Homo sapiens: one gene and its partner. The main gene of each other region encodes a partner of the protein of the gene in region 2 in a complex. Each region holds a gene or a part of one and is shown on either strand. Other genes may lie near its edges.

Region 1 (12,356 bases), on a different chromosome or scaffold from region 2:
AGAAAAAAATAGAATATAAAAACAAATAAAAATAAAAATCACTATTTAAGACAACTGCCCTAGACAATTTCTCTAGAAAGTAAGCTCCATAAGGGCAGACACTTCAGTGGTTTTAATGTTTTATAACAACATTTATAACAACTCACACTGTAGGCCTAAAAAGCATTTGATTTGTAGTGAATGAATAATTGACTTATATAATTCAATGTCTTTAAAGAGCTACACAATAAATTCTTTTAAAGATTTACTATAGGAAAAAAATTAGTCTTCCTGAATAAAACTGTTGTGCTGCTTTTCATTAGACAGTTAGGAACTTGTTTCTTCGACTTCCAGGAAGATGAAAGTGAGGCCATTTCCAAGAATATCTCAATTGGTCTTCCTTTGGCTCTCATCTTTCAAATCCAGTACTTTTACACCACCACTGGAATTACCTTTTGGAAGAAACCTGAAAGCCAAAAGTTTAGATCCTGTGTTCCCTTTTCATTCGAGCCCTAATCTATTGTTTACCATACTTGCCTCCTCTCCCGCCTGCCTTTATGCCCTCCTATTCACCCTGTTTCAGCCAAGGGATCATCATCCCTTCAACACATGCTGCTTATGCCCACCTCCACCACATTCCTGATGTTATTTCTTCCACCTTACAATGCCCTTTCCTTTCCTTATTCCAAGTACTGTTCTGCCCCCTGTCATTCCCACATCAAAGAGATCCTTTGAAATTTGCACTGCCTGTGTTTGAATCAAAGTTGTTCTACTACTTTAGCCTCAGTTTCCTCACTGGCAATACTGTAGTTTCCTGCCTGATAGGATTCCGTGAGGAGGCAATAAAATTACCCAGGTTCAGCCAGGAGCAGTGGCTCACGCCTGTAATCCCAGCACTTTGGGAGGCTGAGGCGGGTGGATTACCTGAGGTCACGAGTTTGAGACCGACCTGGTCAATATGGTGAAACCCCATCTCTACTAAAAATACAAAAAATATAGCTGGGCATGGTGGTGGCCACCTGTAATACCAGCTACTCAGGAGGCTAAGGCAGGAGAATCGCATGAACCCAGGAGGCAGAGGTTGCAGTGAGCTGAGATTGTGCCATTGCACTCCAGCCTGGGCAACTAGAGTGAGACTCCGTCTCAAAAAAAAAAAAAAAAGAAAGAAAAAAGAAAATTATCCAGGTTCAATAAATATCCATGCTCCATTAATATTAGCTCTTAATAAAATTAAAATTTCTTCTATTTACCTGAAAAGTATTTTTGTCCTTCTTTATATCTTTTTGTTGTTTGTTTAGAGACAGGGTCTCCCTCTGTCACCCAGGCTGGAGTGTAGTGGTACAATCACAGCTCACCGCAGCCTCAACCTCCCTGGCTCAAGTGATCCTCTTGCCTCAGCCTCCCAGTAGTGGGGACCACAAATGCACACCACCGCACCTGGCTTTGTTTTGTTTTGTTTTGTTTTAACTTTGTAGAGATGAGGTCTCACTGTGCTACCCAGGCTGGTCTTAAGCTCCTGGCCTCAAGCAATTGTGCCACCTCGGCCTCCCAAAGTGCTGGGTTCACAGGTGTGAGCCAGCCACCATGCCCGTGCCTGGCCAAATACTTTATATCTTTTTTTTTTTTTTGAGATGGAGTCTAGCTTCGTCACCCAGGCTGGAGCACAGCGGCGTGATCTCAGCTCACTGCCTTTGTCGCCTAGGCTGGAGCACAGTGGCGTGATCTCAGCTCACTGCAACCTCCGCCTCCCAGGTTTAAGCAATTCTCCTGCCTCAGCCTCCCAAGTAGCTGGGATTACAGGTATGCACCACCATGCCCAATTAAGTTTTGTATTTTTAGTAGAGATGGGGTTTTACCATGCTGGCCAGGCTGGTCTCAAACTCCTGACCTCAAGTGATCTGCCCGCCTCGGCCTCCCAAAGTGCTGGAATTACAGGCATGAGTGACCGTGCCCAGCCCCAAATACTTTACATCTTAACCTATGTTCTTAAAGTATTTGTGCCTTAAGAACAGTGGTCCTAGAATATGACCCATTGCAAGAATATTCTCACTGTGACCCCTCTTGGGAGTTTTTTTGTTATGCATCTAATATTTAATATTGTCTCAATGGGGTCATTGCATTTTTCTGTTCTCTAAATTAGTTTAGGACAGTAACAGTTGTATCTCTTTCATGTGTCTGCATGTGTATGTCTCTTTTATTTTTATTTTTGCCCCTCCCCAGCCTCCTGTGTATGTCTCTGCTTAATACTTCTGTCACACATTTGAACTTGGTATCTACCAAATCAATTGATGTGTGGTAATAGAGAGAGATAAGAGGTATTCGATAAGTGGTAGCGCTGTACATTATGCTATTAAAATTTACATATAGGCTAGGTGTGGTGGTTCACGCCTGTAATCCCAGCACTTTTGAGGGCCGAGGCTAGTGGATCACCTGAGGTCAGGAGTTCAAGACCAGCCTGGCCAACATGGAGAAACCCCGTCTCTACTAAAAATACAAAAATGAGCCAGGCTTGGTGGTATGTGCCTGTAATCCCAGCTATTTGGGAGGGTGAAGCAGGAGAATCACCTGAACCCAGGAGGCGGAGGTTGCAGTGAGCAGAGATCGTGCCACTGCACTTCAGCCTGGGGGATGGGGCAAGACTGTCTCAAAAAAAAAAAAAAAGAAGTTTACACATAATATTTTACTCAAGTCTTACAAGAATCCTATTAGGAAGGTAGTAGTATCCCTGTTTTGTTTTGTTTTTTTTTTTGTTTTTGTTTTTGTTTTGAGACAGAGTCTTGCTCTGTCCCAGGCTGAAGCACAGTGGTGCAATCTCAGCTCACTGCAACCTCCACCTTCCGGGTTCAAGCGATTTTCATGCCTCAGCCTTCTGAGTAGCTGGGATTACAGGCGCACGCCACCACGCTTGGCTAATTTTTTGTATTTTTAGTAGAGACAGGGTTTCACCATGTTGGCCAGGCTGGTCTCGAACTCCTGACCTTGTGATCTGCCGATCTTGGCCTCCCAAAGTGCTGGAATTACAGGCGTGAGCCACCGTGCCTGGTCGTAGTATCCCTGTTATATTGAACAATCATTATAACAACTACACTGGTTTAACATAGATGGCTATGCCATTAGAAAAGCACCTTGTAACAAACCTTAGTATTTTGAGATTTCTCTTATTGTCTTCTACAACAAAATCACTAACTACATTTTTTTCCCATTATTGTTTCTGTGTTTCTGAGTCTGTGTTTATGACCCTTGACCTTATGACCCTTGATCCTGCCACAGCATGTTAGCTCTAAACTCCAGGAGCTCTTTCAGGGAGCGTTTCCTGACACGCTGGCTGGGTTCTCATTTCTAGTGCTGAGCTTGGAAGTAGCGGACTTTTGGTACCCAAAGTCAGGCAAGCAGGGACAAGCAAGGACTTCTGGACAACAGGAGGTTCTGGACCTCCAAAGCTGAGGACGCTGTATGGCAGTGATCCTACTAATGTTCTGAGATCCCCTCTTTGATGTTAGCAGTCTGATTGCTCGCCATTTTCTCAGAACTAATGTCAGCTTACAACATCTGACACACAATCTAGAAACAGGACCCCATTTCAAACTCATATAAATTCCTTTCTTCATTCTTGGTTGGTATGAGAAAAATATGCAATGCGTATGGAAGAAAACATAAACTCTAAGTGAGTCTCATTATAGGAATTCCTCTGATCATGGGCATGACAATTTGCAAATCTGAGTAGGTGTTATGTTCCTCACCAACCTGGCAAACCAATTAAGTGGGAAGCTCATCTTCTGAAACATTGCATAGTTTTGATTTTATCACAGACATCATATAATATTTTTTCTATTTCAAGGATCTACAGAAAGTATACCCCTTCAATTGAGAGGGATCTGTTCTCAACGAATACACTTATTATCCATTTCAAATAAATCTCTCTATATTACCTAAAGATCTTAAAAGGCCAGGTTATCTTACATACATTACACAAGATACTATAAATTATCCTGGATATATTCTGAATGTATCCTGGATATAACCTGAAAATTACTTATAAATTGCTAGTGAAGTTCAAGTGAATAAGCTCTCTGGAGAACTTTACAGTTTACTCATTAAATAAAAACAGGTTAATTGAATGACTTTAATGTCATTAGATATTCTTAGGCACCCACAGTGAGATGCTGCACATATAAAGACATTATTCTGTCCCACAGCTTGCAATCTAAAATTAGATAAACACAGGCAAGCCAGATAAACATAGACAGCACATTTTTTAAGACAAAAAAAAATGATAGGAGAGAAAAATGAGAGTAGTGAATCAAAAAGGCAAAAGGAATCAACAAATATTTCATCTTCTGCCTTTTATTCGTAGCCTTAATTACCTCTATCACAAGCAATCAGACTGCTAACATCAAAAAGGGGTCTCAGAACATTAGTGGGATTACCACCATACAGCGTCCTCAGCTTTGGAGGTCCAGAAACTCCTGTTGTCCAGGAGTCCTTGCTTGTCCCTGCTTGCCTGATTTGGGGTACTAAAAGTCCACTACTTCCAGCACTAGAAATGAGAGCCCAACCAGCATGTCAGGAAGCGCTCCCCGAAACAGCTTGTGGAGCTGAGAGGTAACATGCTGCAGCAGGCCAAGCAGTCTGGAGGTGAACACGGCCCTAGGTGCCCATGTGACCATCAGGTTGAGACCTCCCAACTAACCCTCATCCTATATGGTCAGTCTACAAGGCCTAGCTGGCCCTCTCCCTGAAGTTAGGTTTAAAAAGAAAAAATACACCCTCAGTGTGCCAGGCTTCACGGTAGATGGTTGGGATGCAGATAAACATGACATAAGCCTTCTTTTGGCGCTTACAACTTATTTTGGGAGATCGCTCATAAACACACTATTTTGATATAACGTAGTAAATGTAGTGGCAGGGTTGGCGGGGGGCAGGGGAAAAACCAAAGGAAGGGTGCCCAATCCTACCTGGTGGTCAGGGAATGGTAAGTTACTGGCGGAGAGGAGGAAGAATCTGAGAGGCAGAACCAGGAAAGTGTAGCCCAGACGCCAAGAGAGTGTGTGACAAAAGAGAGGGAGGAAAACAGTGTCAAACTCTGCAGATGTCCAGTAAAATGGACCTGAAGAAAGTCCATTGGATTTGTCAAATAGAACAGGGATCATTGGCAACTGTTGATGGGGCAATTTGAGTGCAGCTGGAAGTCATACGGTAGTGTTGAGGAACTAAGGAGAGAGAAAGCAGAAATGAAAAGCTTGGCTATGAAAAAAAAGTGAATGAGAGAGGAATATGTCATTAAGAGAAGATTGGTTTGTTTTCTTTTTGATCTGAATTGACCAGTTTCTGATCTGAGCGAAAGCAGCTGGCTGGAAATAAAAAGAGGTGATTGATGGATCAAGGGAACAGGTTCTTGGTTTCAGTTCCAGATCCCACTCCTGTTTCCTCCTGGGCTCTGACTCTCTCTCCTATTCTATTAAATAGCAGCTCCTTGTCCTCAGGTATGGACTTTGCTTCTACTTTCCCTTGCACATACTCAACTGTACCTCCATAAAATATGACAATGACATCTACTAAGTGCAAGAGCCACAGCTGCATAGACGTCCTGATGACTGGCTCCCTTCCCAAACTATGTATTCACCTACAAAGCACTAATATACTTTTCTAGTGATGAGAATGCTTCCATTTACCATCCAGGGCATCACTGCCTGTCAAGCTGCCCTGGAAGCCTAACAACTGTTTATTTTTTATTTATTTGAGTCTCGTTCTGTCACCAGGCTGGAGTGCAGTGACGCAATCCTGGCTCACTGCAACCTCCGCCTCCCGGGTTCAAGCGATTCTCCTGCCTCAGGCTCCCGAGTAGCTGGGACTATAGGCGCGCGCCACCACGCCCAGCTAATTTTTGTATTTTTAGTAGAGACGGGGTTTCACCATGTTGGCCAGGATGGTCTCGATCTCTTGACCTCGTGATCTGCCCCCCTTGGCTTCTCAAAGTGCTGGGATTACAGGCGTGAGCCACCGCGCCTGGCTACTTTTTGTATTTTTAGTAGAGACGGGGTTTCACCATGTTGGCCAGGCTGGTCTCGAACTCCTGACCTCAAGTGATCAGCGTGCGTCAGCCTCCCAAAGTGCTGGAATTACAGGAGTGAGCCACCGCGCCCGGTCACATTTTATCCTCTTTTTAATAGGAGCAAAATAGTATTTATGTGGGATTCCACTGGTTTAAATTCTAATTAAATGAGACAAGATATAAAGTACTTAATTCCACACCTAGCAATACAGTTGACATCCATTAAAGTTTATTGAATTAAGGAATAAATTGGGCAATCATTTAACTTCTTTGAGACTGTTCCTGTAACAGTAAAGTAAAATTATTACTACTTGCTCCACCTCCCACACCAGATTGCTCTCAGGAACAAATGATAGTATGTTTACGCGAGTGCTTTAAAAACTGTAAAAGCACTTTACTACTTTCGAGTGGAATTTGTATGTTGATTTAATGTCATTCCTAGAGCCGGTTTTTATTACTATCAATTCGTTAAATTTAGCATTCCTATTAAAACCCACTACTAATGTGCAGAATTGTTTTAGTTATTTATAAGGACGTTGTTTTAGACTATTCCTAATTTTGTCTGGTTGCAGGGCTGTGGTGCCATATAGTAGTGATTGTGACAAACCCGTACTTTCAGGAAAAACATTCACTTTTCTCCACTCCTGGTTTCTATCGCCAAGAAATGTCTGGCAGAAGCAGCACAAATCAATGATTCCAGCCTAGCACCTTAAGGTAAGAAGTGACCAAAGACCCCCAACACAGCTATCCCAAATTAAAGCCACTTTGACCAACGACAACGTCCAGTGAAGACACGGAGGAGGGTCGGGCTGGAAAAGAAGAGGACGAGGAACCCGAGGGGCCCTCCCCTCTCTCTCCCTGCCCCCCAACCCCGCGCCGGGAGCTCCAGCGGTGCCGGGGTCCAGCGCGCAGGACGGTTGGGGGGTCCCGGAGCGGGCGGCCAGGACCCGCGCAGCCAGTTGGTGTCAGCGAGCGCCGCGGCCGTTGGGGACTCCAGCTCCCAGCAGGCACCGCTTCTGCGGCCGACGCGCGTGGCGGCGGTGCCGGCTGGGACTCGTAGTGCGGTCCGGGTAGGAGAGAGCAGGGGGCCACGCTGGCTCCATCTACGCACGTTTCGGAAACCGGGCCCGGAGGGGACCACGCCCGCTCACCCGTGCCCGGCGTCCCCCGGAGCTGGGGCTAGAGGAGCCGGGCCGGCCGCAGCGGGAAGAGGCCACAGGCGGCCGCGCACGTGGGGGGTGGTTAGCGCGGAGGAACCCGGAAGCCCTTTGCACCGCCCACCGCCGCGGTGACGGGTTAACGCTCCTCCTGGTGGAGGCAGGGGCGGGCGGGGCGGAAGGCGGGGACGCCTCAGCCAACACCCCCGAGGACCGCCCGCGAGCCGTCCTCCCCACCCCCACGGACGCGACGCAGCGCGGGCTCCGCTTCCCCGGCCGCGGCGCCTGCGCAAAAGCCCCGCCCCTTCGCCCGAGCCCCACCCCCACACCGCAGCCTCCACCGCCGCCACCTCTCCCTTCCTCTCTGCTCTTTCCTCCTGTTTTCTCTTCCCTCCTCCCCCTGGCCTCCGCGTCTCCTCCTACTCCGGCGCTGACGCTCGCGTAGGGGCCCTGGCGTCAGACGCGCGGGGGCGGGGCGAGTGCGGCGCGGGGTATAAGTAGAGGGTGCAGGAGGCGGTGCTTCCCCTTCTCCCCGGCGGTTAGTGCTGAGAGTGCGGAGTGTGTGCTCCGGGCTCGGAACACACATTTATTATTAAAAAATCCAAAAAAAATCTAAAAAAATCTTTTAAAAAACCCCAAAAAAATTTACAAAAAATCCGCGTCTCCCCCGCCGGAGACTTTTATTTTTTTTCTTCCTCTTTTATAAAATAACCCGGTGAAGCAGCCGAGACCGACCCGCCCGCCCGCGGCCCCGCAGCAGCTCCAAGAAGGAACCAAGAGACCGAGGCCTTCCCGCTGCCCGGACCCGACACCGCCACCCTCGCTCCCCGCCGGCAGCCGGCAGCCAGCGGCAGTGGATCGACCCCGTTCTGCGGCCGTTGAGTAGTTTTCAATTCCGGTTGATTTTTGTCCCTCTGCGCTTGCTCCCCGCTCCCCTCCCCCCGGCTCCGGCCCCCAGCCCCGGCACTCGCTCTCCTCCTCTCACGGAAAGGTCGCGGCCTGTGGCCCTGCGGGCAGCCGTGCCGAGATGAACCCCAGTGCCCCCAGCTACCCCATGGCCTCGCTCTACGTGGGGGACCTCCACCCCGACGTGACCGAGGCGATGCTCTACGAGAAGTTCAGCCCGGCCGGGCCCATCCTCTCCATCCGGGTCTGCAGGGACATGATCACCCGCCGCTCCTTGGGCTACGCGTATGTGAACTTCCAGCAGCCGGCGGACGGTGAGCGCCGGGCTCCGCGGTCGGCCGGGCGGGCGGGCGGCCATGAGGCTCGGGCGGCGGCGGCGGGCGGGGTAGGCCGGCGGGCCCGGGGAGGGGGGCGGGAGGGCATGTCACCCCGCGACGGCCGGCGGGAAGGCGCCGGGGTCCCTGGAGCCGCGTTTCCCGAGCCGGCGGGGACCCGCGCTGCCGGCAGCCACACGCCCGGCTACTTCCTCCTTTGCGACCATTTTCTCGGCCTCAGACGCTCTCAAACTTTAGGGTGATGACGCGCCGGGAGGGTGGGTGAGATTCGGTTCCTCCGCGGCGCTCCCGCCAGTGGCCCCGGGATTCTGGGGCGTTGAACGCTGAGCTCCTTCCGTGGGTAAGAGGTGGAGGCGCTCCCACCACCCGGAGCTCCTGCCGGCGCCCCAGCCTGGGGAGGAAGTGCAGTTCTGTGCTCGAAAAATACCACGTGTTGAACCCTGTAACCTCGCAGGCCCGAGGCCTGCTTCTGCTCCTGCTCCTGGCCCAGTCGCCTGGGGGAGCCACCAGGCCTTAGGATAAAGTTCCTGTGGCGATGTGTGGTGTGGTGGTGGTCCTCAGGCTTGTGAGTCCACTTCCCAGAACTCATCAGTGACTGATGGATCTAGGAATGGAATTTACCGGAGACATGCATTTGGGGTTTCCCCTAGATCAAGCATTTCTCTAACATTAAAAGGGCAGAGTGGGAGGAGGGGATGTGGCAGCCGACCACTTTGAAGGCCAGTTTTCTCAGGCAACTTAGACCATTTTTAGTCAAATTTTATCTTAGATTCACAGTACTGGTGGTTTTCGAGTATATTATGTTACCTTCTGAAATAGTTCCTGTCGTTTTGAGGGGCTTTTCTTTATAAAATAGTCAACTTTGGCTATAAAATGTTACTTTAGTGTAATTCCAACTGGACCAGTCTTATCTGTAGCATGCAAGAAGTTCAAGTTTCTCTTTTATTTTTAAAAGTGGCCCATGATACCTGTAAATCTTGGGAAATGACTGAGTACAAAATAACGGAGATTAAATTGAGCTTGAAATTTATGGGGGAAATGCAGCTAACTTTGTGCTTTTATTTTGAAGCTAAACAGTTAACAGAAACACAATTTTGTAAACAGATAATATCTGTGGTCTGTTGAGTTGCTAGGATTTGTCTTTAGATCAATTGGCTTTGAGAAGTCAGCTTAATTCCATTTTACGGCCCAATTTTGCCTTTTTCCCCCCCTACAGGCTGGCCACTTGAATACATGTCAAATAATCGAAATATGAAGAATTCATTTTTATTAGAAAAGGCCTTAAGGGTGGAATTTAAGCTCCTATTAACATTCATTCAGTAGAACTTAGGTTACTGATCAGCTCTTCACTGTGTAAAGTTGATACTGATTTTGGAAGCAGAATATTGAGTGACACAGAGCCAGAAGTTGTAAAACTGCACTGCAGGTTTCCTGCCCTTTTGCTCTGTAAGCAGTAACTCCAAATGTCACTTCATAACAGTTCTTGTCAACCTTAGGCAGGATGTATCAATGCATGTCAGATGGGGGTAGATAACTTTGGGGCAGGTTATCACAACCTAAGAGTTGGTGGAGAAAACATGGGAATGAATTCTAGAGACCACAAAATGAAAACTTGAAAGTGTTACTCTTTCTCAGCTTAACGTTTTTAAATCCAAAAAACAATTTTTACATTTCTTGGGATTCGAAGAGTTGAACTTCAGGTTGCCGTGGTTACAGTGTACAGTATATATTATCAGTCTGTACCAGTAGACCAGTACCCTAACTACTGAAAAGAATATGGCAGTTTTCCATTTGTCTAGTTTCTGTATGTACAATTTACTATCCAATTAATTACTTAAGTGGATTTCTTGTTCTTTTTTAAAAACTTATTGCTACATTGATAGGCAGAATAGCTTCTGAAAGTGACCAGTTTTCAATTTCATAGGAAGAGGTGACTCATTGAAAAATAGCTCAAGCAAAGTCAGCTAAAAAAAAAAAAAAACTAGGGAAGCTGAGTAGGTGTGGTCAATTGATAATGAGCTAACAGCTGATTATCACTATATTCTAGAAACTGGAACTTTCATTTATAAAAAAAGAGGTGGCCGGAAAATTCATCCTGTCAATAACTTTTAAATTTACATTGGCATGGAATTTGTAGGAATTGTTTCAGGGCTTAAAAGGGACCGTTTTCCCTCTCTTCGGGGACTAGTCTTTTTATTTAAGGATGTGTTATTTCATTTAGAGCCTTTAATGGTACAGGTATACATAATTCAATCCTTTATAGATCCTGAAATTAATTGTAGATTTTGAAATTTTCTAGCAGTATTCAGAAATAACTAAATCAGTTGTTAAGAAAATCAGCGATCTAAAGTGAAATTGATTGTATGTGTCAAGAGAGCGTTAATGGTGATTTCTGAATATTGCAGACCTGGTGTTTTTAAAATTCTGTGATTATGAAACCAAATATGTCTAACTTCACATTAGCTTTTGAAAGCATGATTCAAATCTTGGTCTAGCCTTTCATTTTCTTAAATGGAAGTTGTGCCATGAATCACTGAAACCCTCCCTCCCCCCAATAATTAAGAAACTTTCATTTTTTAGGAAATGGACTAGTTTTCATATAATATTGTTAGTTATTAGCAATGAAATGACCAATTTTAGCAAGTAGTTGGGAAGAAGTTAAAATATTTAAATCTATAAACTACTTCCAGCTTGTAGATAAATCTGTTGCGTAATGTCTTTTATACTGCTTATTAAACAGATTGTATGTGAAGGAATTTGGATTTTGATAACTAGGAAAAAAAGTGCTTTAGATTTAATGGCAATTAAGGCGAGAGATTGCGTCAAGAATTTATTAATTATTAGCAATATGGAATTCTTTTATATGTGAGAAATTTCGGGGGCTTCTGGTATTTGTCTTTGCTTTATACAACTTAGGTCCCACACTAGTGTGTGATACTTGAAAGGTCTAGCCATCTTGAAGCTTAAAGAGGAAGCGTTCAACTGTGAGACCATGTGTCCTCCCACTCCAGTCACCATAGTTTATATAATCTTAAGTAGCCAGCAAAAATTTTGAAGTAATATTGACTCTGAAAATGTCCTTCCTGCAGCGGAGCGTGCTTTGGACACCATGAATTTTGATGTTATAAAGGGCAAGCCAGTACGCATCATGTGGTCTCAGCGTGATCCATCACTTCGCAAAAGTGGAGTAGGCAACATATTCATTAAAAATCTGGACAAATCCATTGATAATAAAGCACTGTATGATACATTTTCTGCTTTTGGTAACATCCTTTCATGTAAGGTAAGCCAAAAATGTCCGATACACATGTTTACATTGTTGAGCTACATTTAGTTTAGTGCTTGAAATAGGAACTGTGCAGTAATGGATATCTTTATTTCACAAATATCCAGGTTAGATGGCTAACAGATTGTCTCTCAACACTGAACAAATGTTAAATCAATAGCAAATAAAGAAAAATGGGTATATGTTTTTCCCTAGGTGGTTTGTGATGAAAATGGTTCCAAGGGCTATGGATTTGTACACTTTGAGACGCAGGAAGCAGCTGAAAGAGCTATTGAAAAAATGAATGGAATGCTCCTAAATGATCGCAAAGTGTAAGTTATAAATATCTAGCTAATCATATTTTGAATCTTATTTTTAATAATTCCAAATCCATTCATTTTAAGTTAATATTTGTCAGGGAGAAGTTAGATGCACATAAGATAAAAGAATAAAAACATTTTAAAGATGAATAACAAAAATTCATGTAGTTGTACTGGAGTGAAAATTAATAAGCTAATCTTGATTTTTACAATTGAATTTTCTACACAGTAAGTGTAACATACAAATAACAGGTTTAATATAATTAACATTCATGCCAAAAGGAAAACAGAAGATAAGTAAACAGAAAAATGTAGCTTTTTCAAAATGAGTGCATTAGTGAA
Region 2 (11,490 bases):
GCCAGGGCTGAGGAGGACCGGGGTCAGGGCCAGGAAAAAGCCGGGGCTGAGGAGGACCGGGGCCGGGGCAGGGGAAAACTGGGGCTGAGGATGGCCGAGGCCGGGGCAGGGGAAGGCCGGGGCCGGGGCTTAGGAGGACCCGTTGAGGCGAGGCGGGAGTCGACGGAGCTGGGTGCCCGGAAGACCGGGCCGGGGTCAGGGTCGGGAGGCCGGGGTTGGGCGAAGGCCGGCGAGGACGGGGGTCGGGCAGGGCCTGGGCGGGGCCGGGGTCGCGGGCCGCGAGCGCCCCCAGGCCGGGCGGGCGCCGGCACCCGCAGTGCGGCGCCAGCCTTGCCACTCGCTCCTCGGTCCCGCCGGAGCCCGGATAGGCGGCCGTGCGGGTGCGGGGCGGGACGGGTCATCAGGGCATCGCATTCCTTTAGAACCAGGAAGTTGGGATCCTGTTGCTCGGTGTGTGTTTGGAACGCTCCTGTTTTCCTGTTGATAGACTTGAGCAGAGGTGGATCTGAAGGAGTTAAAAAAATAAAGTCAGATGTGAAGATTGCCTGTGTTGGTCTTGGGGCTGGGATACATGGGCGGCAGAGAAGCCATCGGAAAGCTGCTGCACCTGCCTCTCAGGGTGCGCTTGGGAACGTGAAGAGTCTTTCCGTTTCAGTGCCGTTGTGCGTCGAAACTTCATGCGAATGTAATTTTGCTTTTCCCCTTATTTTTACGTAAAACGTTCTTAAAACTTGGCTGAGATGAAACTTGAGAAACCTAGCTGTAGAAAACTACCTCCTATCTGGCTTTCGTTTGAGATTCTCTAAGTGGATGCCCAATAACTTGTCTTAATAGTAAATTGGAAGTTTGAAGTTTTGGATAACTGAGAAAACAGGAAGGTTTTCCTTGACAGGGCAGTGGAGTTTGTAAGTATAAACAGTATGCGTGAGGCCTTTTTCTAGAGATGAGAGCAACTCCAAGGTGAACATTGAAGGGGACAGACAAGTTATTTTCCCTTTCGAAAGTTTTTTTCTCTTAGTTTCAGTTGTTTGAATATTTAAATGCACTTGAAATAGGTGCTGAGTTGTAGTTTGTGAAGACCACAGTGGGGAAGAGTGGTGTCCTCTTTTTTCTTGGTGGTCAGGTGGTGTGTGCAGTGTGCAATTTCCATACTTCCCCAACCTGCCTGGCGCCCCTCATTACAGTCAGGGTAATTTACAGAAGTTGAAATCGTTGTGGCTTTTCAGTTTTTTCTCCTTGTATTTAATATGCTGAAAGGCAGTTTTGTAATCAAACCATATAAGAAATAGCTTAATTGAGGTTTGCTAAGTGAAATGCGTTCCGAAAGGCATCAGATTAACAAGCTTATTATTTAATCATAAATTTAATTTGTGTACTTATCTTTGAAACTTGCATTGGTTAGAAATAAATTTTATCCGGTATTTTGAAAAGTTAATGTGAGTTGAGTTGACTTATTTATATGAAACAAAGGCATGGCTTATTCATTAGAAGTTACCCTCGTGTTGCCTACATTTTCTCAATTGTAACAGGGGGATGATGATAATCTCATTTTCTTAGGACTGTTGTAACACAAACATGGAAATGTTGTCTGGTTTTGCTATTTTCACTATTACTGATTTTTTTCTTCCCCCCCCGAGTTGGAGTCTTGTTCTGTCACCCAGGATGGAGTGCAGTGACACGATCTCAACTCACTACAACCTCCACCTCCTAGGTCTTCAAGTTATTCTCCTGCCTCAGCCCCCCGAGTAGCTGGGATTTACAGGCACATGCCACCACACCTGGCTAATTTTTGTATTTTTAGTAGAGACGGGGTTTCAGCATGTTGCCCAGGCTGGTCTCGAACTCCTGGCCTCAAGTGATCCACCTGCCTTGGCCTCTCAAAGTGTTGGGATTACAGGAGTGAGCCACTGCGCCCAGCTTACTGAATTTTTAAAATATTCTACCTTGTAGCTGTCAATCTATTAGCAGAAAGTTTTGTTTTTGTTTTTGTTTTTTTGTTTTGTTTTTTTTGGCTTGTTTACACATGTATCTGGGCAGAGAAAACAGCTTCTGAGCACAGAATGCATATTTGGAGAAAGCAGTTCCACTCTTTTTGAGTAGGAACCAGACAGAAAAAAAGATAACATGGGTACTATTCTGTAGAAGAGTAGCTGAAATTAAGTGGCAGCAAATTCAGGGAGAAATGTAATTTGGTTTAATGTTCGGGAAGATTGCCATTTTTAAAAGTGAGATTTAAAGAATTTATTGAATTTAATGCAATTTCCATAAGTAAGCACAAGTTTTGACAAGTATATATTTAAGGTGTTTTTATGAAGCAGTCTTCACATTATCTTAAAATGTAGTTCTAAAATACGTGCAGGCTGGGTGAGGTGGCTCATTCCTGTAATCCCAGCACTTTGGGAGGCCTAGGTGAGTTTAGGAGCCCAGGAGTTCACCAGCCTGGGCAACATAGAGAGACCTCATCTCTACCAAAAAATCAAAAAATTAGCCAGGCATGGTGGCTCACACCTGTAGTCCAGCTGTTGGAGAAGCTGAAGTGGGAAGATCGCTTGAGCTTGGGAGGTTGAGGCTGCAGTGAGCCATGATCCTGCCACTGCACTCCATCCTGGACAACAGTGAGACCTTGTCTCCCCCCACCCCCAAAACATGCAAATTGGGACATCAAATTGTTAATGGTGTTTACAATGAACAGTGCCTTCAGGTAGCTGCAGCTACTCTACATAGATTTGCAAGTTTTTGTAGTGATAGGCTATGGTAGATGTTACCAGCCAAGGAGTGGCTGACAAACTCCTTTCACTGTTATTTCATTGTCATGTTAAAATTCATATTTTCCGTCAAAATAGTGATAGCTAGGATTATAATCTAGGTCTTCTAATCTTAGTAACGTGTTGTCTATGTTAGGGCCTCTCAAAGTTGTAAAAAAGCTGTATAGATGTGTTACCATCAATCGATTTCATTTGTTTTTATCCTAGTGTTAAAGGTACAAGTTTTTTTTTTTTTTTCTTTCCTGAGGCGGACTTTCACTCTTGTCGCCCAAGCTGGAGTGCAATGGTGCGTTCTTGGCTCACTGCATCCTCCGCCTCTCGGGTTCAGGTGATTCTCCTGCCTCAGCCTCCCGAGTAGCTGGGATTACAGGTGCCCTCCACCACACCTGGCTAATTTTTTTTTTTTTTGTATTTTTAGTAGAGTTGGGATTTCACCATGTTGGCCAGGCTGGTCTTGAACTCCTGACCGCAGGTGATTCGCCCGCCTCGGCCTCCCAAAGTGCTGGGATTGCAGGCGTGAGCCACGGCGTACCTGGCCAAAGGTACAAGTTTTAAATATGCTTTTATCATGCATACAGTACTCTTATAGATTCTGTCAGATTTAGGGATATTCTTTTCAGATTGATAAATTGCACAAAAATCTTGGAGTATATTCTTGTAATTTCTTCTACAAAATTCTCAAAACAACCTTTTTCCAATGGGGAGAAGACATGAACACTGAAGTCATGTTTTTGGAAAATACCTTGTTAAAAACAGACACTGCTGTAAGGGTTTCCTTGCTTATGCTCTTTTGTAGAACTTTATTGATGTGAAGAGTTCTCCTTTTTCTGTAAAAGCTTATTTTAGAGTACGAAGTAAATGAGGCACTCAGAGAGTTAACCTCATCAGGTCTGAGTTTAGTTCAGTTTAAACTTTTTGCTCTTATGCTGGTTGATATCTTTGTAACTACTCTACTTCTAGAGTTATTTTGATTGGAAAATGAATTCCTTTTTTAGAACATGGAATTGTAAGGTAGAAAACTGCTAGGTTCTCAAAAGAAGGGAGATAAATTCCAACTTGAAAGTTTTTTCCCCTAACGTTCTAATGCTTTGTTTTTCCTGTGTGTAAATGCCTTCCTTAGGAACAAGGAAAATTATTAACTCAGCTGTGTTTCCTTCCCTTCTCTTTCTCACTGCCCCCCCGCCACCCCATACCTTAATACCTTTTGTCCCTTCAATGCCTTTATAAACTCTGTCTTCTCATAGTTTTTCTGGTGAAGCTGTCATGGCTCCTATTTCAACCATAAAGGATTTGCAGTTCAGTGATGCTACTGGTTTTACATCTTCTTTCCCATCAACCCCATTGCCCTGGTTAGGAGACCTAGACCATGGAGTACATTGCAATATTGAAAGTATTTCATGTTTAACACAATTTTTTTTTTTTTTTTTGAGACCGAGTCTCGTTCTGTTGCCCAGGCTGGAGCGCACTGGCACGATCACGGCTCACTGCAACCTCTGCCTCCAGGGTTTAAGCGATTCCCCTGCCTCAGCCTCCTGAGTAGCTGGGACTACATACAGGTGCGTGCCACCACGCCCGGCTAATTTTTGTACTTTAGTACAAATTGGGTTTCACTGTGTTGGCCAGGCTGGTCTTGAACTTCTGACCTCAAGTGACCCATCTGCCTTGGCCTCCCAGAGTGCTGGGATTACAGGCGTGAGCCACTGCGCCCGGCCATGTTTAACACAAATTTGAAAGCGTACTGCTTAGTTTTTTAGGGGGAGTATGATAATCATAGAGATGAGACTTGATCTTTGCTGAAAGTGTTCTTTATGAAGTCTGATGTGCATAAATTTGCCCAATAAAATGCTCTTTTATTTACACAAATCATTTTAGTCGCACTGTAGCCAGAGTGTGGCATAGCCTGATGGCTGGCCTCTTTTCAGAAACTCATCAGGACTGCCCTAGGCCTCGCCCTGTGTGTGCTTCCACTTCTGTGTCTTCCTTCTTGCCCTGCCCCACCTTTTAATCAGGACCACGCCTCCCTCTCCTACCTTGGTGTTGCAAACGTTGTAGCCATTGCTGTTGGTAGATTCTTTGACTGAAATTGAATGTCCACCTCCTTTAAAAAAATTTTTAAAATATTTACTTAGCTCCTTAAACCATCCTTAAAAAGATATTTTAGGAGTCCTCCAGACTGCTTTGCATTAACTTCTGAGATTATGCTTCTCTGTTTCTGTAGCAACTAAGTGTACCTTTGTGTTACTTAGCACATAATTAATGTAAGCTCCTTGTGAGTGAGATTCTCTTTTTATGCTTGTCACCTCTGCCCAGCCCAGGGACTGGTAAACTGTAGATGTTTAGTGAAAGTAATTCAAGTAAAGAGATAAGAATGCTCAAAGACATCTCCCACCTGTGTTCCAGAGAAATTGTTTGCTGATTGTATACTTGCACATTTCTGTAAACAAATAGGAAAATCTTTACTCAAAAAGCATACATTAGAAAGTTTCTTATAGAGTATAAAAGTTATATTTACAAGTTTTTAACTGACTTTTCATAGCTACATTTAGCGCATAAAGTATTTTCAGATAGAGTAATTTAGCCACATGACCTTTAAATTATACTGTTTCTCAGTCTTTAAAAACGTGCCCTCTTTCGGCCAGGCACTTTGATTCACGCCTGTAATCCCAGCACTCTGGGAGGCCGAGGCGGGTGGATCACCTGAGGTTAGGAGTTCGAGACCAGCCTGGCCAACATGGTGAAAACCTGTCTGTACTAAAAATACAAAAATTAGCCAGGCGTGGTGGTGCGTGCTCGTAATCCCAGCTACTTGGGAGGCTGAGGCGGGAGAATTGCTTAAACCCGGGAGGCAGAGGTTGCAGTGATCTGAGATCACACCACTGCACTCCAGCCTGGGCGACAGAGTGAGGCTCTGTCTGAAAAAAAATGAAATAAAATAAAATAAATGCCCCCTTTTAGATAGCCATAGAATTTCTTACCTTTATTTTGCTTTAAAATAAAAACATCATGTTAACCCAAAATGAAACAATTGCAATATTGAAAATGTATCTTTTAAACTTTAGTGGATGTTTTTCCATTTTTTATTTTCTGTTAAGTATTGCTAAAGGGCCTGGCATAAAGGAGGGCCACTGAGATTACGGTAAGAAAAGGGTTCATTTTCTTCCTGTGGCAGGTGTTCTGACCAGTTGAACACTAGGGATGCAAAGATGAAAGGCAACAGGATTTTTCTGTAAGGCCCGTCATCCAGCAGGAATAGGAAAGTGCATTGTTCTATGTAAAGCCATAGAGACTGGCCTCTGGAAGTGGCTGGCTCTCAGCTGCATGCTTCTTTGGATAGTCTGCTACAACAGTCACATATATTATGGTGTATCCTGCCCTGCACTCTCCTTGTCTCCCCTTCTTGCTGTACTTTTTTCATAGTATTTATGACACTATAACATACCATATAATTTACTTACTAATTTATGTATGGCCCGTCTTCTCATACTTGAATGTAAACTCTTATGAGATCAAGATTTATATTTTGCTCCTCAGTATGAACCTAAGCCTTAGAACAATATCTGGTAGGTAGCATGCGCTAAATAGTTGATGAGTAGATCCCAGTATGGTGAACAAGAGGGATAGATTGCCATCTCTTGGAGTTTGGTGTCCATTGAGACAGGTGGACAATCACATAATCCAATAAGAAAGTGCAGTGCACTGACATCCGGCCTGGATGGGAGGGATCAGAAGGCTTCCCTGAGGTTGTGATGGTGGCACCGAGGTTGGAGGGATGGTGGTGGAGTGAGAGGTCAGCAGAGAGAATTACCTGTGTAGTGCCCCAAGTGGGAAAGGTGCAGAGTGCTTTGAAGGAACTAGTGTGAACAAGGCTGAAGGAAGAGAACGCGGCTGGGAGGTAGGTGGAGAGTTTTATTTTACAGAGCTTGGGAGGTCCCATATAGGTTGATTATTTTGCCCTTTATCCTAAGACCAGTGGGAAGCAGTTGGAGGATTTTATGTCATAGAATTGTCTTTTTTAAATGATTCTGCTTTGCAGAGTCGTGTGGAAGCAGGGAGTGGTCACATGTGGGTGTTACTGGGCGGCAAGGTAGGGAATCTCTTTCTTCTTGTGTACACCTCTCTTCATAGTTGAAAAGGCCAAGCCCCAGTCTAAATGAGACCAGCCAGCTTCCTTAAAATCCCTTTAATTTGTATTACATATAATCGTGTATGTTTAAAAAATATTTTATTTTTTTGAGACAGTTTGTGTCACCCAGGCTGGAGTCCAGTGGCATGCTCACAGCTCTCTGCAGCCTCGACCTGGGCTTGAGCGATCTTGCCACCTTAGCCTCCCGAGTAGCTGGGACCCATGGGTGCATGCCACCACACCTGGCTAATTAAAAAAAAAATTTTTTTTTGTAGAGGTGGCGGGTCTCACTATGTTGCCCAGTCTGGTCTCGAATTCCTGGGTTCAAGCAGTCCCAGAGTGTTGGGATTACAGATGTGAGCCATTGCACCTGGCCTAAAAATGCTTTAAAATTTGTTTATAAAATATGTCTTAAATTTGCTAATATTTGCCAGTTGTTTAAAGTATATTTGTTATTTCAGATAATTTCAAACATGCCTTTTTTAGGAGTGTCTCTGAAAAATGAGAACATTTTGTTTTCACATTTCAGAGAGCTTTGTTTTTATTGTCAGTGCTCAAAATACAGAGATGAAAACCTAGTGATCAATTTGGTATAGATGTACAAATTGCTTCAGTTATTGTTATCTGTTAACATGTTGAACATTCTCTTTTTAAAAATATCAGGTCCTTTAAAATTTTCTTTAAAGGTGGCTTCATGCTTTTCTGAGCATTCTTTTTATCTTTGTTGATTACATATTTGTATTTCATTGTTGAGATTATCGTCTGTGTAATTTTTGCCTTATCAGTCAGAGAATACCAGTAACCTTTAGGAGGCATGTACAGATTTTTTTTTTTTTTTTTACTGGGTCCATAAAGGGGGAAAGTTTGGTCAGGTTGGGGAGCAGTCACACTTCTTCCTGAGAGGTAGTAAATACCAGGCTCTCCATCTGGAGGAGGGGTCAGTAAATCACGTTTGCAAAGGAAAAGATGCGGTAATTGGTAGGATTCAGACCTGTGCCGGGAAACCCCAATGGATTTCTAGTTCATTGCTTTAACCATTCAGTCCTGACTTTAAAAGTAGACTTGAAGTCCCTATGGGAAGCTACCTTCTAAAAATCTAGACATTTGAAAGGATGAAAGCATTGTCTCTTGTGCTTTTAGGAGGTTAAAAACATTTAAACCACGGATAGAACACTGGCATTTAGTGTTTCTTGAGTACTGTAAATACAGTAGCTTACTGTGAAAGTCTTTTTGGGTGGACTTCTGTCTGGCATGATTTGTTTTTTTTTTTGAGGTGGAGTCTCACCTGTTTCCCAGGCTGGAGTGCAGTGGCACAGTCTCCGCTCACTGGAAGTTCTGCCTCCCAGGTTCACGCCATTCTCCTGCCTCAGCCTCCCAAGTAACTGGGACTGCAGGCGTGTGCCACCACGCCCAGCTGATTTCTTTGTATTTTTAGTAGAGACGGGGTTTCACCATGTTAGCCAGGATGGACTCAATCTCCTGACCTCAAGCAATCTGCCTGCCTTGGCCTCCCAAAGTGTTGGGATTACAGGCGTGAGCCACTGTGCCCGGCCTGCGTAGCATGATTTTAAGTTCTATGTTCCATATTCCTCTGTGGTTAATATCCATACCTCCAGTGATACTTGTTATTTATTTATTTATTTATTTATTTATTTATTTATTTATTTAACAGACGGGGTCTCGTTCTGTTGCCCAGGCTGCAGGAGTGGAGTGTAGTGGTGTGGCCACTGCTCACTGCAGCCTCCAATTTCTGAGCTCCAGTGATCCTCCTGGCTATTTAAATAATAATTTTTTGAGACATGAGGTCTTGCCATGTCACCCAGGCTGGCCTCAGTCTCCTGGCCTCAAGTGATCCTCCAGCCTCAGCCTCCCAGGTTGCTGGGAATATGAGTGTGAGCCCCTGTGCCTTGCTCCATTGACAGTTGTTACCAGGCTAAATTGCTAGTTCAGGTTGCCTTTCAGTGGGTCACTTGGAGCAGGGGTCCCTAACTCCCAGGTTGTCCGACCCGTACCCATCATGGCCTGGTAGGAACTGCGCTGCACAGCAGGAGGTGAGCAGCAGGGTGAGTGAGCATTACTGCCTGAGCTCCACCTCCTCTCAGATGAGCAGTTGCGCTAGATTCTCATAAGAGCTCAAATCCTACTGTGCACTGCACATGCAAGGGATCTAGGTCGCATGCTCCTTATGAGAATCTAGTGCCTGATGATCTGAGGTGGAACAGTTTCATCCTGAAAGCATCCTCCTCACCACCCCCCACCCCCTGACCCCTCCGCTCTGTCTGTGGAAAAATTGTCTTGCATGAAACCTGTCAGTCCCTGGTGCCAAAAAAGATTGGTTACCGCTGACTTGGAGTACTGACCATTGTGAAAATGAGTAACTGATGAATCAGCAATAGTTGCTTCTTCACGCTGTCAGTGAAGACCAAAGAATGAATATGGGAAGCAGTATTACCAGTGTTGCTGCGTGTGCACGTGGCCTTCAGTTTTTCCCTGCTCTTCCCATTTCTTTGTACACACCGATGAATTTAATCTCTTCTGCTGAAATCATTATTCTTTAGGGCTCAGTACAGGAGAGTTAAACCTAAGCATGAAAGGACTGGAAATGGGATGTAGAATTGCCAAATAAACTGTAGAAGCATTGAGGCACTTAAAAATCTCCATGACCTGGAGAAATTCCAGTGAAGAGTAAACTTTTGCAGTGTGCCTTAGGATTCCGAGTGACCACAAGTTTTATTATCTTTCAGGCAAGGCCACACAGATTCTTGGCATACTATTTCCTGTAAGTTCAGAATTTTGGAAGTGTGTTGGTCATTGTGGTAGTCCTCCCCCTCCCCGCGTCCCCCTGCCAACCTTACAGGAAAGAAAGAAGTGGTAGTTTTATTCTGTTATTGAGAATAGGTTTTTCATGAAATCACATGAAGTTACAGCTCAACATAAATAACTGTAGACTAGATGTTTTCCCAAAATCGTTATATGGCCACAAATTGTGTTAGATAATTATATGAGCAAGGCAAATAAATGCTGGATCATTAACTTCCAGTTTTCTTTCTTTCTTTTTCTTTTTTTTTTTGAGATGGAGTTTCACTCTTGTTGCCCAGGCTGGAGTGCAATGGTGCGATCTCGGCTCACTGCAACCTCCACCTCCTGGGTTCAAGCGATTCTCCTGCCCCAGCCTCCTGAGTAGCTGGGATTACAGGCATGCACCACCACGCCTGGCTAGTTTTGTATTTTTAGTAGAGACAGGGTTTCTCCATGTTGGTCAGGCTGCTCTCGAACTCCCCACCTCAGGTGATCCGCCTGCCTTGGCCTCCCAAAGTGCTGGGATTACAGGTGTGAGCCACCATGCCTGACCCTTAACTTCCAGTTTTCAATTTGATGTTGGGAAGTGTGGTTAGGTAAATTTATTGTAAAGCATATATTTACGAAATGTTTAATAATAATAATAGTGAACATAACATTTAATCAGCCTTAACCCAGTTGCATGGAGTGTTTTCTTTTTATCAGTTCCATCGTTATCAGTCTGGAATTAAAAGACTGAAGGAACCTTTAATTCTTTTTAATTCCTTTTTTTTGAGACAGAGTCTCACTTTGTCCCCCAGGCTGAAGTGCAGTGGCTGTATCTTGGCTCACTGCAATCATCACCTCCTGGGTTCAAGTGATTCTCGTGCTTCAACCTCCAGAGTAGCCAGGACTACAGGCACGTCACCATGCCCAGCTTATTTTTATAGTTTTAGTAGAGACAGGGTTTCTCCATATTGGCCAGGCTGGTCTGCAACTCCTGGCCTCAAGTGATCTGCCTGCCTTGGCCTCCCAAAGTGCTGGGATTACAGGCCTGAGCCACTGTGTCTGGCCTGATTAATTCTTAATTCATAAAATGTTAGGTGTGAATTAAATAGTACTTTTGAAGTAAGATGTTTATATTCTAAGACTGTGAGTTTTGTTCTACGTTATTTTGTCAACTGAGATTTGGTAACTAGTTTGTGAAAATAATTGTCAGAAAAACAGTGTAATATTGCAGTTGCAGTCTTAGGATTTTAGATCTCTGAAGACTCAGAAACTGAAGCCCATGAGGTAAAATTAATTAGAGATACAGCTGGCTAGTTGGTGACAGAGCTAGGACTGTAACGAGCCTCCTCTTTAAGTCCAGCATCCCGTTGCACTGTAATTGCAGAGTTTACTGTGGTCGCTGTTAAGGCGCACCCTCCGCTGTGGTATATCAAAAGAAATTGGTGAAAGCATTAATTTTATGTATGTTAGATAATTTAAATAAGTGTTTTAACTTTTTGAGGTAGATTTTTAAAGCAGTTATTAGACTGTGCTTTTTAAAAGATTGAAATATATTTACTCCAGGAAAATTAAGTGTTTTGTCATTTTAGATAATCCATTAACCTTAATCCAAATAGGGAGGTGCTAATTGGTGTTCTGGTTAACACCCTCCGGTTTGTATCGTGTAATCAGACTGCAGCTTACAGTTCATCTTTGAGAAATAGTCTAAGAGAAATTCATGTAAATTAAATGGTTTTCTTCCTAAAGCATTCAGGGAGAGTTGTTCATTTTAACGTCCACGCTGTTAACACAGGAGTCTGTGTGCAGTCTTGGATC

What was found.
Region 1: the proteins of LARP4B (region 2) and PABPC1 are in contact, whole or in part, in a crystal structure (PDB 3PTH), measured with the Homo sapiens proteins. Residues at the interface, in NP_055970.1 of Homo sapiens: Leu56, Asn57, Pro58, Asn59, Ala60, Glu61, Val62, Trp63; in NP_001425211.1 of Homo sapiens: Gln560, Gly563, Glu564, Phe567, Gly579, Lys580, Thr582, Gly583, Met584, Leu585, Leu586, Glu587, Ile588, Lys606, Glu609, Ala610, Val613, Leu614, His617.

Annotation. Positions count from the first base shown.
Region 1 is NC_000008.11:100,717,443-100,729,798, reverse strand, and holds the start of PABPC1 (polyadenylate-binding protein 1), read left to right. Parts: upstream 1-7,710; 5' UTR 7,711-8,215; coding exon 8,216-8,408; intron 8,409-11,518; coding exon 11,519-11,712; intron 11,713-11,910; coding exon 11,911-12,026; intron 12,027-12,356. UniProt on the Homo sapiens protein: Binds the poly(A) tail of mRNA, including that of its own transcript, and regulates processes of mRNA metabolism such as pre-mRNA splicing and mRNA stability.
Region 2 is NC_000010.11:919,742-931,231, reverse strand, and holds part of LARP4B (la-related protein 4B), read left to right. Parts: intron 1-2,567; exon of another isoform or gene 2,568-11,490. UniProt on the Homo sapiens protein: Stimulates mRNA translation.